Linked DNA regions of Homo sapiens. The protein of the gene in region 2 interacts with the protein of the main gene of each other region in a pairwise test. Each region holds a gene or a part of one and is shown on either strand. Other genes may lie near its edges. The genes, in order: PRKCD and CARD11.

Evidence for each region.
Region 1: the proteins of CARD11 (region 2) and PRKCD interact in binary tests that used the Homo sapiens proteins (3 or more experiments, as listed by UniProt).

The regions. Positions count from the first base shown.
Region 1 is NC_000003.12:53,177,955-53,185,220, reverse strand, and holds part of PRKCD (protein kinase C delta type), read right to left. Parts: intron 6,818-7,266; coding exon of another isoform or gene 6,799-6,817; coding exon 6,684-6,798; intron 5,645-6,683; coding exon 5,445-5,644; intron 4,015-5,444; coding exon 3,954-4,014; intron 3,778-3,953; coding exon 3,615-3,777; intron 3,521-3,614; coding exon 3,489-3,520; intron 2,101-3,488; coding exon 2,015-2,100; intron 1,770-2,014; coding exon 1,640-1,769; intron 348-1,639; coding exon 247-347; intron 1-246.
Region 2 is NC_000007.14:3,040,681-3,048,303, forward strand, and holds the start of CARD11 (caspase recruitment domain-containing protein 11), read right to left. Parts: upstream 3,188-7,623; 5' UTR 2,987-3,187; intron 1-2,986. UniProt on the Homo sapiens protein: Adapter protein that plays a key role in adaptive immune response by transducing the activation of NF-kappa-B downstream of T-cell receptor (TCR) and B-cell receptor (BCR) engagement.

The DNA.
Region 1 (7,266 bases), on a different chromosome or scaffold from region 2:
GTTCCAACACCCACTCCTGTGGTCCCCAGGTTCACCCTCAAGTAAAGAACTGCCTGAATAATGAATTTCTTATGAAAAAAAGCCCCCCTCCCTCTGCTGCCTAAATTCTTGAGTTGCATCTTCCCGAAGTAGAGTCCTGGGTCTAAATATATCCTGGCTGTCTGTGGCTCCCCAGCAGTGGCTGTAAGCCTTGACTGTCCCTGACCCCACTGCCCTGTGTCCAGGGTCCCCATGGCACCTGCCCACCTGGGTGACTTGGTTCAAGGCCTCAGCCAAAAGCTTCTGGTTGATGCCGCAGAGGTTGGCCACCTTCTCCCGGCATTTATGGTGCACATTCATGCCGCAGTCTGGGGTGAGGGAGAAGCGGGGCTGTCAGTCTCAGAGCTCAGCCAAGGGCAGGGGGCAGTGTAGGAGAGGCGCAGGAGAGCAAGAGAAAGGAGGGCTTCAGTGGGGTCTGCTGGGTTCCAGTTTCTAGGAAAACATTGATCTGAAGCCATCATAAATACTTCGATCTCTCTCTCTCTCTCTCTTTTTTTTTTTTTTTTGAGATGGAGTTTCCCTCTTATTGCCCAGGCTGGAGTGCAGTGGCGCAATCTCGGCTCACCGCAACCTCTGCCTCCTGGGTTCAAGGGATTCTCCTGCCTCAGCCTCCTGAGTAGCTGGGATTACAGGCATGCGCCACCATATCCGGCTAATTTTGTATTTTTAGTAGAGACGGGGTTTTTCCATGTTAGCCAGGCTGGTCTCGAACTCCCCACCTCAGGTGATCCACCTGCCTCGGCCTCCCAAAGTGCTGGGATTACAGGTGTGAGCCACCACGCCCGGCCAAGCATTTCAATCTTTCATGATTTTTGTTGTTGTTGTTGTTGTTGTTGTTGTTGTTGTTGAGACGGAGTCTCACTCTGTCACCCAGGCTGGAGTACAGTGACATGATTTCGGCTCACTGCAAGCTCTGCCTCCTGGGTTCACGCCATTCTCCTGCCTCAGCCTCCCGAGCAGCTGGGACTACAGGCGCCCGCCACCACGCCAGGCTAATTTTTTTGTATTTTTTTAGTAGAGACAGGGTTTCACCATGTTAGCCAGGATGGTCTCGATCTCCTAACCTCATGATCCGCCCGCCTCGGCCTCCCAAAGTGCTGGGATTACAGACGTGAGCCACCGCGCCCAGCCAATCTTTCATGATTTAAAGAAAAAGGAAAAACCAGAAGACAGGGACCTAATTCGAAACCCTTTAAAGAACATCTGGTCAACTTAAGCCGCTTTCCCTCCAGGGTCTTCTGTCTCATCTCTAAGTGAAGCAGAGGGCAGGGGAGGCCTGTCTGGGCGCCTGTCGGTGTGCACCAGGCCTGGCTTCAGCACCCTCTGCCCACTGGCCCCTCACAGGGACTCTCTAGGTCCTGCTTTTCTCCTCCAAATGGCTCAGAGGGGTGGAGCCGCCCACCTGTGGTCACACAGCAGGTAAGTGGCAGAGCCAGTCAGGCCAGTGGGGAGGGTCCACCAAGGCCTCACCCTCATCAGGTCCCTGAATGAGGTGCCCGTCTCCAGGTGAGGAGGCGAGGGTGGCGTGAGGTGGCTGGAATTCACAGCAGCACCAGCTGGGAGTGCCCCTCCTGCAGCCCAGGGGCGGGGTGGCACGCACCTTCACACTTTAATCCCTGCTTCACCAGTCCCCAGAGCAGGCTGCCGCAGTGGTCACAGAAGGTGGGGCTCATGTAGTTGTGAACCTTGAAGCGGTGCGGCATGTCGATGTTGAAGCGTTCTTTCTGGAACTGGAGGTGGGGGTATCACAGGCTGAGGGTCACGTGCCAGCTCCAGCCTCTTCTTCAACCCCTAGCTCTCCCCCAACCCTGGGCACAACAACATCCCAAGAGAGCTCCACTGGGAGAGGCAAGGAAAGACTAAGAAAAATGGGGAGGGAGGGTAAGCTCCCCAGGGAGGGTGGGGAGAGGGTGCAAATCCCTCCCATCTGGCCAAGCCCCCCAGATCCCCAGCCCTGCCCCGGACCCAGGCTCACTATAGTGTCCCGGCTGTTGGCCGCGGTGCCAGTGCATCTGCCGATGATCTTGTCGATGCATTTCTTGTGGATGGCAGCGTTACATTCTTGAAGAGGCACAGGCCCAGGAGGGGGAAGGGAAAGCACCGGGAGGGGCAGAGTCTATGAGCTGGTGCCTGCCGACCAGTCTAGCCCTCTACACAAAGCCACCGTTCTCCTGACCGCCCACACCCTCACCCCGCAGAGGCCCAGCGCTTGAGTCTTCCTCCTGCCAGCCCTCGAAGGAGGAGCCTGGAGAGGACGGGGCGGAGAGGACAGGCCAATCTGCAGGGGCTTAGAAAGAAGGAGTCCTAGTGGGCAGGGAGGTGGGCAGAAGTTAGCGGGCACAGGGCATCGCAATATGAGAAGCGGGGGCAGTTCTTCCAAGCCCTGGGATAGCAAACGGCTCCTAAATGCCCTCTCTTACACATGCACATGGACACGCCTCAAAACAGACACCTGTACATACACACAAAGCATGTGTAATAATGATAACAGACTTCTTACACAGAGCGGCTACCAGTGGAAGGCACTTAAAATACAGCTTTACATATCTTATTCCATTTGATCTTCACAATGACCCTATTATACATTATAGTTATATCTAATTTATAGATGAGGGCCAGGCACGATGGCTCACGCCTATAATCCCAGCACTTTGGGAGGCTGAGGTGGGTGAGTCACTTGAGGTCAGGAGTTTGAGACCAGCCTGGCCAACATGACAAAGCCCCTATTCTACTAAAAATACAAAAATTAGCCGGGCATGGTGGTGCACGCCTGTAATCCCAGCTACTCAGGAGGCTAAGGCAAGAGAATCGCTTGAACCTTGGAGAGGGAGGTTACAGTGAGCTGAGATCGCACAACTGCACTCTAGCTTGGGCAACAGAATGAGACTCAGTCTCAAAAAAAAAAAAATTATAGATGAGGAAACTGAGGCACAGAGAGGTTAAGTAACTTTGCCTAAGGCCCTATAGCTAGGAAGTGGTAGAGCTGGGATTCAAACCCAGGCAGTCTGACTCCAGCCTGCGGCGCCTCGTGTATACACCCTCAGGGACAGAGTGTGCTCACACCTGTGTACTCAGAGACACCCACATCTACACAGAAGCACATGCAGCCACTATGTGCCAGTAAAGGACCTATCATTGCCTCTCCGAGGAAAAGAGGCCTGGTGCATGGCCTGGGCTGGTTTCTGCGTGAATACTCTACTGTGCCCAATTGCCATCCACCAACTCCCCGTCACTGAATGCGGAGCTGGGAAGAGATGCGCAGAACTGGTTTTCCAGAGCAGCAGCAAGCCAGCCCCAGCACTCACTGAACTCAGCTGCTGTATCTACACTGGGAAAACTCACGTGCATACACTCTCTGAGCGCACACAGGCACTGGCATACACACAGGCACTGGCACACGTGAGCACACATGGGTACATACGTACAAACTGGCCTGTGGAGACACTTACGCCTGCATTTGTAGCCTTGCTTGTTGAGGCCCCTGAAAGGCAAAACCCAGGCAAAGTGAGTGAGCGGGGACCGGGATCGGCCCCCACTACCCTGCACCACCACCAGTGGGCATGGCCGGTTCTCACCAGACAAAGTCTTTGCACACAGAACAGAAGGTGGGTTGCCCAAAGAAGGTGGCGATAAACTCATGGTTCTTGATGTAGTGGATTTTGGCCTGTTTGATGGCTCCGCGGCGGTTCATCGTTGGGAACTTGGCCTCGTCCTCACTGCGCATAGACTGTTTGCAATCTGGTGACCATGGAGTAGGGAAGTCAGCCCTGGTATCTGGAAGGGGTGGCACCCCTACAGTCCCTCCCAGGGTGGTCCTGGACAGCTCTGCCGAAGGGAGCAGCTTCCCTACACCTCAGTGCTGGCTCTGCCTCTGAACCCGGCAAGGGAGCCCTCCACCCCCAGGGAGTTCTTACCCACGTCCTCCAGGAAATACTGAACAGACATCAACACCTTGGCCTGAGGCTGCAGGTCCAGCTGTTGGGGGCCAGAGGCCAGGGGAGAACAAGGTCAGTGAGGGCAGCCTGGGCCAGGCCAAACTCAGAACCCACCCCCATGGCTGGTCCCCCAAGGCCAAGGCAGCCCCCCAAGGCCTAGCCAGACACTTGTCTGCCCAGTGTGGGCAGGGCCCCGCCTGAGCCCCACTCCTGAGCCCCACCCCCACCCTGTACCCAGGGGTATTATTACATTTAGGGAAGTGAAAGGGTCCAGCCCACACCCAGCCCAGACACATAGCTGGGGAATAGAGCGGGAAGGGAAATTCCCCACCCCTACCCGCTGCAGCTCCCTTAGCAAGGATCTTAGAATGGAGGCCCCTACCCGTGTGCACATGCGGAGAGAGACAGACACACAGACACACTCATCCTCGTGCACACACGCTGCTCCTCCCTCTGTGCCGAGGGCTCCTCATGCAGATTGGACAGTCTCGAGGGTGGGACCTGAGCCTCTATCCCCTCACCTCCCCCAAGACCTAGACCTGGTGACTGATATCCTCCCTTGGGGGAGCGGAGACAGCACAGCCAGAGGCCCCTCTGTGTCCCTGCCTGACTGGCCAAGGGTCAGTACAGCCCTGTGTTAACCTCTCTCCCATCCCAGCCCCCTCACCCCTCGCAGGAGGCTGATCAGAGCCTCCAATGGTCACAGGGCCTTTCCTGGTGGAGACATCTTGGTTACATCCCACATGTAACCCCAGGGGACTTCTGCCAGCACTGGCATCCTGTGGCCACCCAGAACACACAGCTGCACATGGCCAAGTGGCCACATGCTTGTGCAGAGTCTCCATTTCAGCAGGTAAGTAGATGAGACCGTCAGCCTCCCCTTCTCCCACCTCCTTGCTGTTAAAGATCACTATGTTGCCCCCTCAATGGCTGCCAAGGCCTAGAATATATGCGAAGATTCCAAAAAGAACTGGGATAATGGGTGCCTCTGGGAAGGAGGCCTGGTGGCCTGGTGTTGGGGCAGGGACACACCCTTTCATGCAGTTAAAAATGTTTTACTATGTGCATATCCTGCCTTTCCAAAATTAAAAAGGAAAAAGTAGTCACAATAAGGAAGTTGGCCGTCTTTAGCACCTGCTATGTGTCAGGTTCTGCAATAAGCCCTGTACATCCAGCTGCTCCTTTCATTTGAACAACTGACCCTGAGGTAGGCACATTTAGTAGCGCCTTCCCTTAACAGATGCGGAAGCAGAAGCTCAGAGAGGCTGGGAATCTGGTGAATTGCAGAGCCAGGATTCACACCCAGGACATGTTGGCCACAGGGCTGGACTGGTGGCCAGCACAGGGCCCGGTGCTCTTCAGCTGTGCTCACTGACCAAGCCCGCGTGTGTGCACGCACACACATGCACGCATGCACACACACACAGACACACACACACACACACACGGCACGGCTCGTGCGCCCCTTACCCAGAACTCAGCCTTGCCATTGTTCTTCTTGCAGCGCTCGGCCAGCACCGACACACCCACGGTCACCTCAGACACTGGCTCCTCTGCTGCCCGCATTAGCACAATCTGGATGACGCGCCCCTCATAGATGTGGGCATCGAACGTCGACTTCCACTCAGGATACATGGTCGGCTTCTTCTGCACCAGTGTTTTCCCACGCTCTGCAACAAGGCCAGGCAGAGAAGGTTGGGCCATGGCCCCTCTGTCCCTCCCTCGTAGACCTCCACGGCCTTCCCCTGGCAGAATCTGCCCGACTCTCCTGCCTTGAGGGCCTGCTGTGGTTCCCCAGTGTCCTCTAGAGCACAGAACTACCTTGGGCACCCTGCTAGGTCCTCCCTCCAGGCCTTTGTTCCTGCTGTTCCCTCTTCCTCTGATCCTCTTGCTCCAGCTCCATTTAAATGTCGCCTGCCCTTATGCATTCATGCAGGGAACATGGGCTGACAGCTCCTGCATGCCAGCCATAATATTCGAGGCGCAGAACACAGCTGAAAGAAAAGCTACATCCAGGGCCTGTCCTCCTGGATCCCCAGGCCCGGGTGGCGAATGCACCAACTCCTTCCTCAAGTAACTGTTAAGTCACAGTTGTGATGAGACTGAAGAGGGCAAGGCTGGTAGTGCTACAGGGTCAAGCCTAAGGGTCAGGGAAGATTTCCTAGAGGAAGGAACAGTTCAGCCGAGACCTGAGGGACAAATAGGGGTTCACCAGGCCAGGGCAAAAGCAAGAGGGAATGATGTGAGGTATGTGCTTCCTCCAGGAAGTCCTCCCTGACCTCAGGTTCAGAGGGTGCCTTCTCTGGGCTTCCCTATTGCAGGACTCACTGCTTTTTGACGTGCCTGGTTTCCCCACCTGACTATGAACCCCATGAGGGCAGGGCCAGGTTAGTCCTGGAGCATGACAGTATCCTCAGTGCCCCGCACAGGCCCTGGCACAAATGGACATGTAAAAATTGCTGGGTAAAACAACCAGGGAGGAGGAACCAGAAACTCCAAGCCTTCCAAGGAGGGCTCAATTTGGCCAGTGTTTGCAGCCCTATAGCGACTCAGTGGCCTCTGCCTTCATAGCTGAGTGGGGCAGGGAGTCAAGGATGAGGAAGAGCAGAATCCTTCAGAGGTTGCAGGGAACAAGGCCAGGCCCCCTCCAGTCCTTCCAGCTGGGCCCAGATTCCCAGCCCCTCTCCAGGGTCCAGCCTCCAGGCCTACCTGTGCTGAGCGCCTCCTTCATCTTCACGGCACAGAAGGGCTGGTTCGCCTCGTCCTCGGCCTGCAGGGAGCCCAGCTCATAGGAGTTGAAGGCGATGCGCAGGAACGGCGCCATGGTGGGGCCTGCAGTGGGGCTGTGCACACAGAGGGGTGAGGCCAGGCGGCCGGGCGGGACCAGCGGGAACAGTCACGGGCAGCACTCAGGGACCCGCTCCCCCAGGGCTCTGCTATGATTGGGTTTGGCCCACATGATGCACACACACACTAGTCTCAGTTGCCAGTGTTAAAAACTGAGAGGTTTGCCAGGCGCAGTGGCTGACGCCTGTAATCCCAGCACTTTGGGAGGCCAAGGTAGGCAGATGGCCTGAGGTCAGGAGTTTGAGACCAGCCTGACCAACATGGTGAAAAGCCATCTCTACTAAAAATTAGCTGGGTGTGGTGGTGCATGCCTGTAATTCCAGCTACTCGGGAGGCTGAGGCAGGAGAATCACTTGAACCCGGGAGGCGGAGGTTGCAGTGAGCCAAGATCGCACCAGTACACTCCAGCCTGGGTGACAAGAGCCAAACTCCGTCTCAAAAAAAA
Region 2 (7,623 bases):
CATTTGACACGCCTTTTCATCATCATCATCTGAAAATCGGGACCCTATTTGGCCTTTCATGCCCGACATGCTATGAGGAGCTACAATCACAAGTGCGTCTTCAACTCCACGGCCTCTGCCAGCCACCACCAAGCCACAGTCACACAGCCCCTCAGTCCCAGGAAGCAAGCCTTTTATCGGAAGGGTCCAGAATCACTGCATAGGATAAAGAAGTCCAGACACTGCCCCTCTTTTTTTTTTTTTTTTTTTTTTTGATACAGGGCCTTGCTCTGTAGCCCAAGCTGGACTGCAGTGGCGCCATCTTAGCTCACGGCAACTTCCGCATCCCAGGCTCAAATGATCCTCCTGCCTCAGCCTCCCAAGTAGCTGGGACTACAGCTGCACACCACCATGTCTGGCTAATTTTTTGGTATTTTTTGTAGAGACAAGGTCCCGCCATGTTGCCCAGGCTGGTCTCGAACCCCTGGACTCCTAGAACCTGGGCGCCCTCTTGTGACCCTGCCAACCCCTTCCTAGTACAGTGTCCACAGGTGGCTGTCCTGTCCCATCTCCCAGCTCCACACCCCCTTTTGGTGGGGATGCCCTTCCTCCCTGAGATTTTCAGCACCATCTCGGCCTGGAACCTTCCAGGAATCCCTGGACCTTCTGAGTCCTACCATCACCCAAGCTCACTCCCTGCTGCCCTTCCCACTCCTCCTAATTCTTTACCATCTCATGTGTGTCTCAGCCACACTCTGACCACGGTATACACAGACTGTGTGATGAACCTACTCAGGGTGGAGCGCTGCTTCTCACATCCCTCCTGAGCCCCCTGCGGCACCAAGTACAAAGCCACTCACACACGCCCACTGATGGATTTAAACAAGCGTGTCATCTTTAGAAGAGCTTGGTTTAGAAGTCTTTTTTTTGAGACAGAGTCACGCTCTGTCACCCAGGCTGGAGTGCAGTGGTACGATCTCAGCTCACTGCAACCTCCGCCTCCCCAGTTCAAACGGATTCTCCTGCCTCAGCCTCCTAAGTAGCTGGGACTACAGGTGTGCGCCACCACGCCGGGCTAATTTTTTGTGGGTATTTTTAGTAGAGATAGTGTTTCTCCACTTTAGCTAGGCTGGTCTGGAACTCCTGTCCTCGGGTGATCTGCCCGCCTTGGCCTCCCAAAGTGCTGGGATTACAGGCATGAGCCACCGCGCCCGTCCAGAAGTCATTTTTTAAAATCACATAAAGGATGAGCGGATACACAAAATATGGTCTATCTGCACAATAGAATATTATTCATCCTGAAAAGGGAAGGAGATTCAGTCACAGACTACAACACAGATGAACCGTGAGGACGTGAGGCTCAGAGAAATAAGCCAGGCACAGGAAGGACATAGGTTGTATGAGCCCCCTTATATGGGGTCCCGAAAGTCATCAGATTCCTAGAGACAGAACGGGGAAGGGTGGCTGCCAGGGGCTACGGAGGGGGCCAGGAAGCTGCTGTTTAACGGGGGACACAGTTTCAGTTTGGGAAGAGCTGGATGGTGGTGATGGCCGCAAGATAACATGGACGGGCTTAACAGCACTCAACTCTGCGCTTCAAAGTGGTTCAGCGAGCTCATTTTATGTCACATGTATTTCACCACGATTTTTAAAAAAATCACATCAAGGACCATTCATGCATTAACAGAAGACTGCTGGGGCCAGTGGAGCCACGGCCTGCCTATCTGATACCCAGGCAAGTAACATCCACACGGGTCCAAGCATTCCCTGGCCTTGAATTACGCTGAGTCCTGGTCACTGTTGCGCTCCTCAGGGCAGCCCTGGCCTGAGGCAGGGGTGTCATCTCTTTACAGATGCCTTGCTGGGGAGAGAACCGGAGTTTCCGCGAAAGCGCAGAAGTGGACACTTACGGAGAAATTCCTGTCCTCATATCAATTCCCGGCTCCCGGGATTTCCGGCACGCATTATGCACAGGCTGAGCGCTCAATAAATGTGGAATGAACGATCGACTATTTTTCTCCCCTTTCTGGTAGGTTGGTAACCTTATACCTTCAAGACGAGTCATAAATATTAGGAGAAAATGTTTTGAACTACAAATCAAAGGCTTTGAGAGCAGGCCAGGCAGAGAGAGGTCAGTTTGGTCCAAGACCAAGTTTGTGTGGGCAGCCCCGAAGCTCACAGCTGAGACCACTGTCCATGAACCTGGGTCCCCGTGACAGCCTCCAGCGGTGCTCAGAGCCCCCGAGGGACAGAAACACCCTCTCTGCCCCTATCTGCAGAGGGGGCTCAGCAGAAGGCCTGGTGGCCCCATCGGGCCTGGAGGGGCCTCCTGGGGGAGGTGGCTTTCAGGCCTGAGGCCGCTAGGACCTGCTCCGGGTTTCAGTCGGGAACCTGGGCCCTCTCCTGTGCCCCCGCCACCCCCTTTCTAGTACAGTCCCCGCGGGGGGCTGTCCTCTCCCATCTCCCAGCTCCACACCCACTTTTGGTGCGGCTGCCCTTCCTCCCTGAGCCAGGCCCCACCTTCCCAGGAGCCTCTGAGTCAGGCTGGGCTGTGGTCTGCAAACTTCCGGGCCTTTCAGGTGTCAGAAAAGTTTCTCTTCCTCCCTCTGGGGCAGGTGCACCAAGGGGCTGCAGCCTCCTGACCCCCGATTTTTTCCTGTCCAGTAGGAGGAGGTGGGGGCTTTGCTGGGCGGTGATACTCAGAGACGCTCAAAGAGACACGGAGGAGAGGCACACGAGGTGGAAAGTGAGGGAGAAAAAGGGTTGGAAGGGAAAAAGGGGAGAGGAGAGTGAGAGAGAGAAGGGGGGCAGGGGGACAGAGATGGAGAGGGAAGGATACCCCCAGCATCGCGGGACCAGCGGGAGCCACTCCCATCCCCCGACGCCCCCCCCGCCACCGTGTCATCTCACTGATGCCCCCCATCTCCTCCCCGTGCCCTCTTCTCTTCCCCCAACTCCCCGCCTCGTGCTCCCCCTCCGCCAGCTCCCCCATCCCCGCTGCGCCTACCTGGGGCGCTCATGCTCCGCCAGCCAGCTGCGCGGGGCGCCTCCTCCACGCAGGCCTCCGGCTTCCTCCAGGCGACCAGGCCCTCCGTCCCCCCGGGCCCGGAGCCGTCCTCCGAGGGGCGCCGCCCGCCCAGGGGCTGCAGGGCCGGGAGGGGGCTGCGGGCGGCGCGGGCAGGAGTCCGAAGGCCAGAGGAGGCAGGAGAGAAAAAAGGAGAGAAAGTATGTCATAGGCTGGGAGGGGCGGGGGAGGGAAATGCAAAACCCGACAGGAAATGAGACTAAAAAATGCGAAAGGTTAGAAAAAGATAAGGAAGAGAGGGAGGGGGCGGAGTCGGTGCTTCGGGAGGAGGGCGGCAAGGAGGTGGGGGTGGGAGTGGGGACAGGGCCGGGGGTGGGGGTGCTTGGGGACAGATCAGGGAGCCGGAGATGGGGAGACCAAGGCGAGTCTCAGGGCCCAGCCCACCTGCATCAGTCGGGGTGAGGCTGGACCAGTCTGGGCATCAGTCCCCACCCAGCCGTGACCCCCGGCAGAGTCCAGGTGGGGCCTTGGGAGGGGCTCTCTCCCTTCTAGGTTCTCCAGGGCACTGGCTCCCGAGATCTAGCTGAATTTCTGAAGAAATTCCAGAGCCTGTCACTGCAATGGGAGGGGAACGGGGTGCCCCACATCAAATCCTGCAGCCTCCTACACCCCAAGCCTCTTTCCTCCCTCAGCCCCTGTTCTGGAAGCTTCCTGGGCATGCCGGGTGGTCAGCACCCCTTCAAAGGCCTTCCTCACCCCGACAGCTTTGGGGTCCAAGACACCCACCATCAGCTTGTGCCCTCGATGTTCCGGTGAAGTATACTTGTAAGAGAAACTGTGATTTGGATGTCATCATTTTACTTTATTTTTATTTTTTGAGATGGAGTCTCGCTCTGTCACCCAGGCTGGAGTGCAGTGGCACAATCTCAGCTCACTGCAAGCTCCACCTCCTGGGTTCAAGCGATTCTCCCACCTCAGCCTCCCGAGTAGCTGGGACCACAGGCGTGCACCACCAAACTTGGCTAATTTTTGTATTTTTAGTAGAAATGGGGTTTCAACATGATGGCCAGGCTGGCCTCGAACTCCTGACCTCAAGTGATATGCCCACCTCAGCCTCCCAAAGTGCTGGGATTACAGGCATGAGCCTCTGCGCCCAGCTGGATGTCATCATTTTAATAATTTACCCCAAATGGCCATCGTCATGGGTGGGATGGTCCCAAGGGTTTACATGGATTGCAGACTCAAAAATCTGGATGAAAGAAAATGTGATACACACACACACGCCATGCAATACTACTCAGCCATAAAAAAGAACGAAATAAAGTATTTTGCAGCAACTTGGATGGAACTGGAGGCCATTATCCTAAGTGAAGTAACTCAGGAGTGGAAAACCAAATACTACATGTTCTTATTTAAAAGCGAGAGCTAAGCTATGGGTAGGCAAAGGCAGGCAGAGTGGGATCATGGACGTTGGAGACTCAGAAGGGGGAAGAATGGGAGGGGGTAGGGGATGAAAAATCACCTATTGGGTACAATGTATACTGTACAATGTGCACTATTCCAGTGACTGATGCACTAAAAGCCCAGACTTCACCACTATACGCTTCATCCACGTAACCCAAAACCGCAAGTACCCCTAAAGCTATTGAAATAAAAATCTGGATGAGCCATGCCTACCCAGAAAACCTTAGTTTCTATTCTCTTGCTGCAATTGCACTGCCTCCTGCACCGCCCGCCCCCCCGTTGCCCCAGCCTCTGCACCTCTCATTCTACTCTGCCTCAGTTTACCATTCTCCTCTCATCTATCTCCCTCTCTTTTGATCCCCTCATTATGGCTAGAGAATGTAGGCTTCTGTTTCATGTTTTAAGTGTTCTGAGAAAAGTTCCTCGAGCTGCTAGAAGGAAAGGCCTTCAATAAATTAAATTTTCAGCAAGACAATAAATAAAAAATGGGACATTGGTCCAAGCACGGAAGAATCTGAAATACCAGTGAGGAGTCTGTTTGCACTGATGCACATGTGCTAGGGATGAAGGAAGACACGAGTTTGCTTCCTGTAAAGCGTGTTCAGAAATGCAAGCAAGGGCCGTAAAGAAAGTTTCTAAAATGAACACCAAGACCCACAGCCTTCTAACACCAAGACCCACAGCCTTCTAGGCCTTGGTCCCTAAGGATACATCTCACTGCCTACCTGGGACTGGGGAAGCTGCTTGTACTCCATGAAACCTCTAAATCAGGCAGTGGCATTTTATTTATTTATTTATTTATTTGGGATGGAGTCTCACTCTGTTGCCCAGGCTGGAGTGCAGTGGCACGATCTCGGCTCACTGCAACCTCCACCTCCCGGGTTCAAGTGATCGTCCTGCCTCAGCCTCCTGAGTAGCTGGGATTACAGGCACGCACCACCACACCTGGTTAATTTTTGTATTTTTAGTAGAGATGGGGTTTTACCATGTTGGTCAGGCTGGTCTCTAACTCCTGACCTCATGATCCGCCCACCTCGGCCTCCCAAAGTGCTGGGATTACAAGTGTGAGCCCATGCGCCCGGCAAGCATTTTATTTTATTTCATTTTATTATTTTTGAAACAGGGTCTCGCTCTGCTGCCCAGGTTGGAGTACAGTGGCTTGATCAAGGCTCACTGCGGCTTTGACCTCCTTGGCTCAAGCCATCCTCCCGCCTTGGCCTCTCGAGAAGCTGGGACTACAAGTGCACGCCACCACGCCTGGCTAATTTTTTAATTTTCTGTAGAGATGAAGTCTCACTATGTTGCCCAGGCTGGTCTTGAACTCCTGACCTCAAGTGATCCTCTCGCTCAGGCCTCCCAAAGTGTCAGGATTACAGACATGAGCCACGGCATCTGGCCTGTCATTTTAAAGAAGAGCTCAGATTTCCCTCCTGCAAGATACGAAATGAGGGCAGTGCCTTAAAACAATGAAACATGTCTGTAGAGATATGTATGCAGTAAAGTACACAAATGCTGCAAAGTCCCATGAATTTTTGCAGCAACTTGGATGGAACTGGAGGCCATTATCCCAAGTGCGAGTGTAACCCACACCCGCACTTCATTCTATCAAAACATGGAACTTTATCTGCACCCCAGAAACCCCCTTGTGTCTCGTTTCAGTCACTCCGCCACCAAGGGTAGGCACATTCCTGCCTCTGACAGCATCAGTCAGTTTGCCTGTTTGTGAACTGCATGTAAACGGCAGCATGCATGCGTTCTTTCGGCAGCCTGGTCCCTTTCACTCAGCGTTATGTTTCTGACTTTTATAGATGGGACTGCATGCGGGTCTAGTTCATTAAGACAAGCCTGTTTCTCCTCCAATATCTTATTAAAAATTTTAAATGTTCAGAAAAGTTAGAAGAACCATCTAGTGAATCCGCATATACCCCACCACTTGATTCTACAACTAGCATTTTGCTATATTGGCTTTATCACAGATCTATCCATCTATCTCTCCATCAATCCTCTCGTCCTTTTTGTTTTTTTTGTTTTTTTTTTTTTTTTTGAGACAGAGTCTCACTCTGTCACCCAGGCTGGAGTACAGTGGCACGATCTCGGCTCACTGCAAGTTCCGCCTCCCGGGTTCATGCCATTCTCCTGCCTCAGCCTCCCAAGTAGCTGGGACTACAGGCGCCCGCCACCATGCCTGGCTAATTTTTTGTATTTTTAGTAGAGAGGAGGTTTCACCGTGTTAGCCAGCATGGTCTCGATCTCCTGACCTCGTGATCCACCCGCCTCGGCCTCCCAACCTCCTGTCCTTTTTTCTGGGTGTATTTCAAAGTAAGTTGCAGACATCATCAGTACACGTCACTGTTAAACACTCCATCATGCATGCCATTCACTAGAGAGGTTTGTTTAGGTGAAATTTACAAACAGATTTTAACCATATGATGCAGTGAAGCTGGGGATGGTGGCAGGTGCTTGTAGTCTCAGCTACTCCAGAGGCTGAGGTGGGAAGATTGCTTGAGCCCAAGAGTTCGAGGCTGCAGTGAGCTGTGATTGCACTACTGCACTCCAGCCTGGGGGACAGAGCAAGACCCCACCTCAAATACATACATACATACATACATACATACATAAATGATTTAAAAACTATATGATGCAATGAGTTTTGACAAATGTACATATTGTGTAAGCCAAGCCCTTATGAGGACATAGAACGGTGTGGTCCAATGTGACAGCCACTGGCCACATTTGACTGCTGAGCACTTTGACAGGAGGCTGGTGAGAATAGGAAGCGAGTTTTTAATTCTCTTCCATTATTATTATTATTATTAGAGAAGGAGTCTTACTCTGTAGCCCAGGCTGGAGTGCAGTGGTGCGATCTCGGCTCACTGCAACCTCCACCTCCCGGGTTCAAGCAATTCTCCTACCTCAGCCTCCTGAGTAGCTGGGATTATAGGCGCCTGCCACCACGCCCAGATGATTTTTGTATTTTTAGTAGAGACTGGGTTTCACCATGACGGCCAGGCTGTTCTTGAACTCCTGACCTCCAGTGATCCGCCTGCCTTGACTTCCCAAAGTGCTGGGATTACAGGCATGAGCCACTGCACCTGGCCAATTTTAATTATTTTTAATCTAAATCCAAAAACTAACACTTGATTTTGTTATCGAAA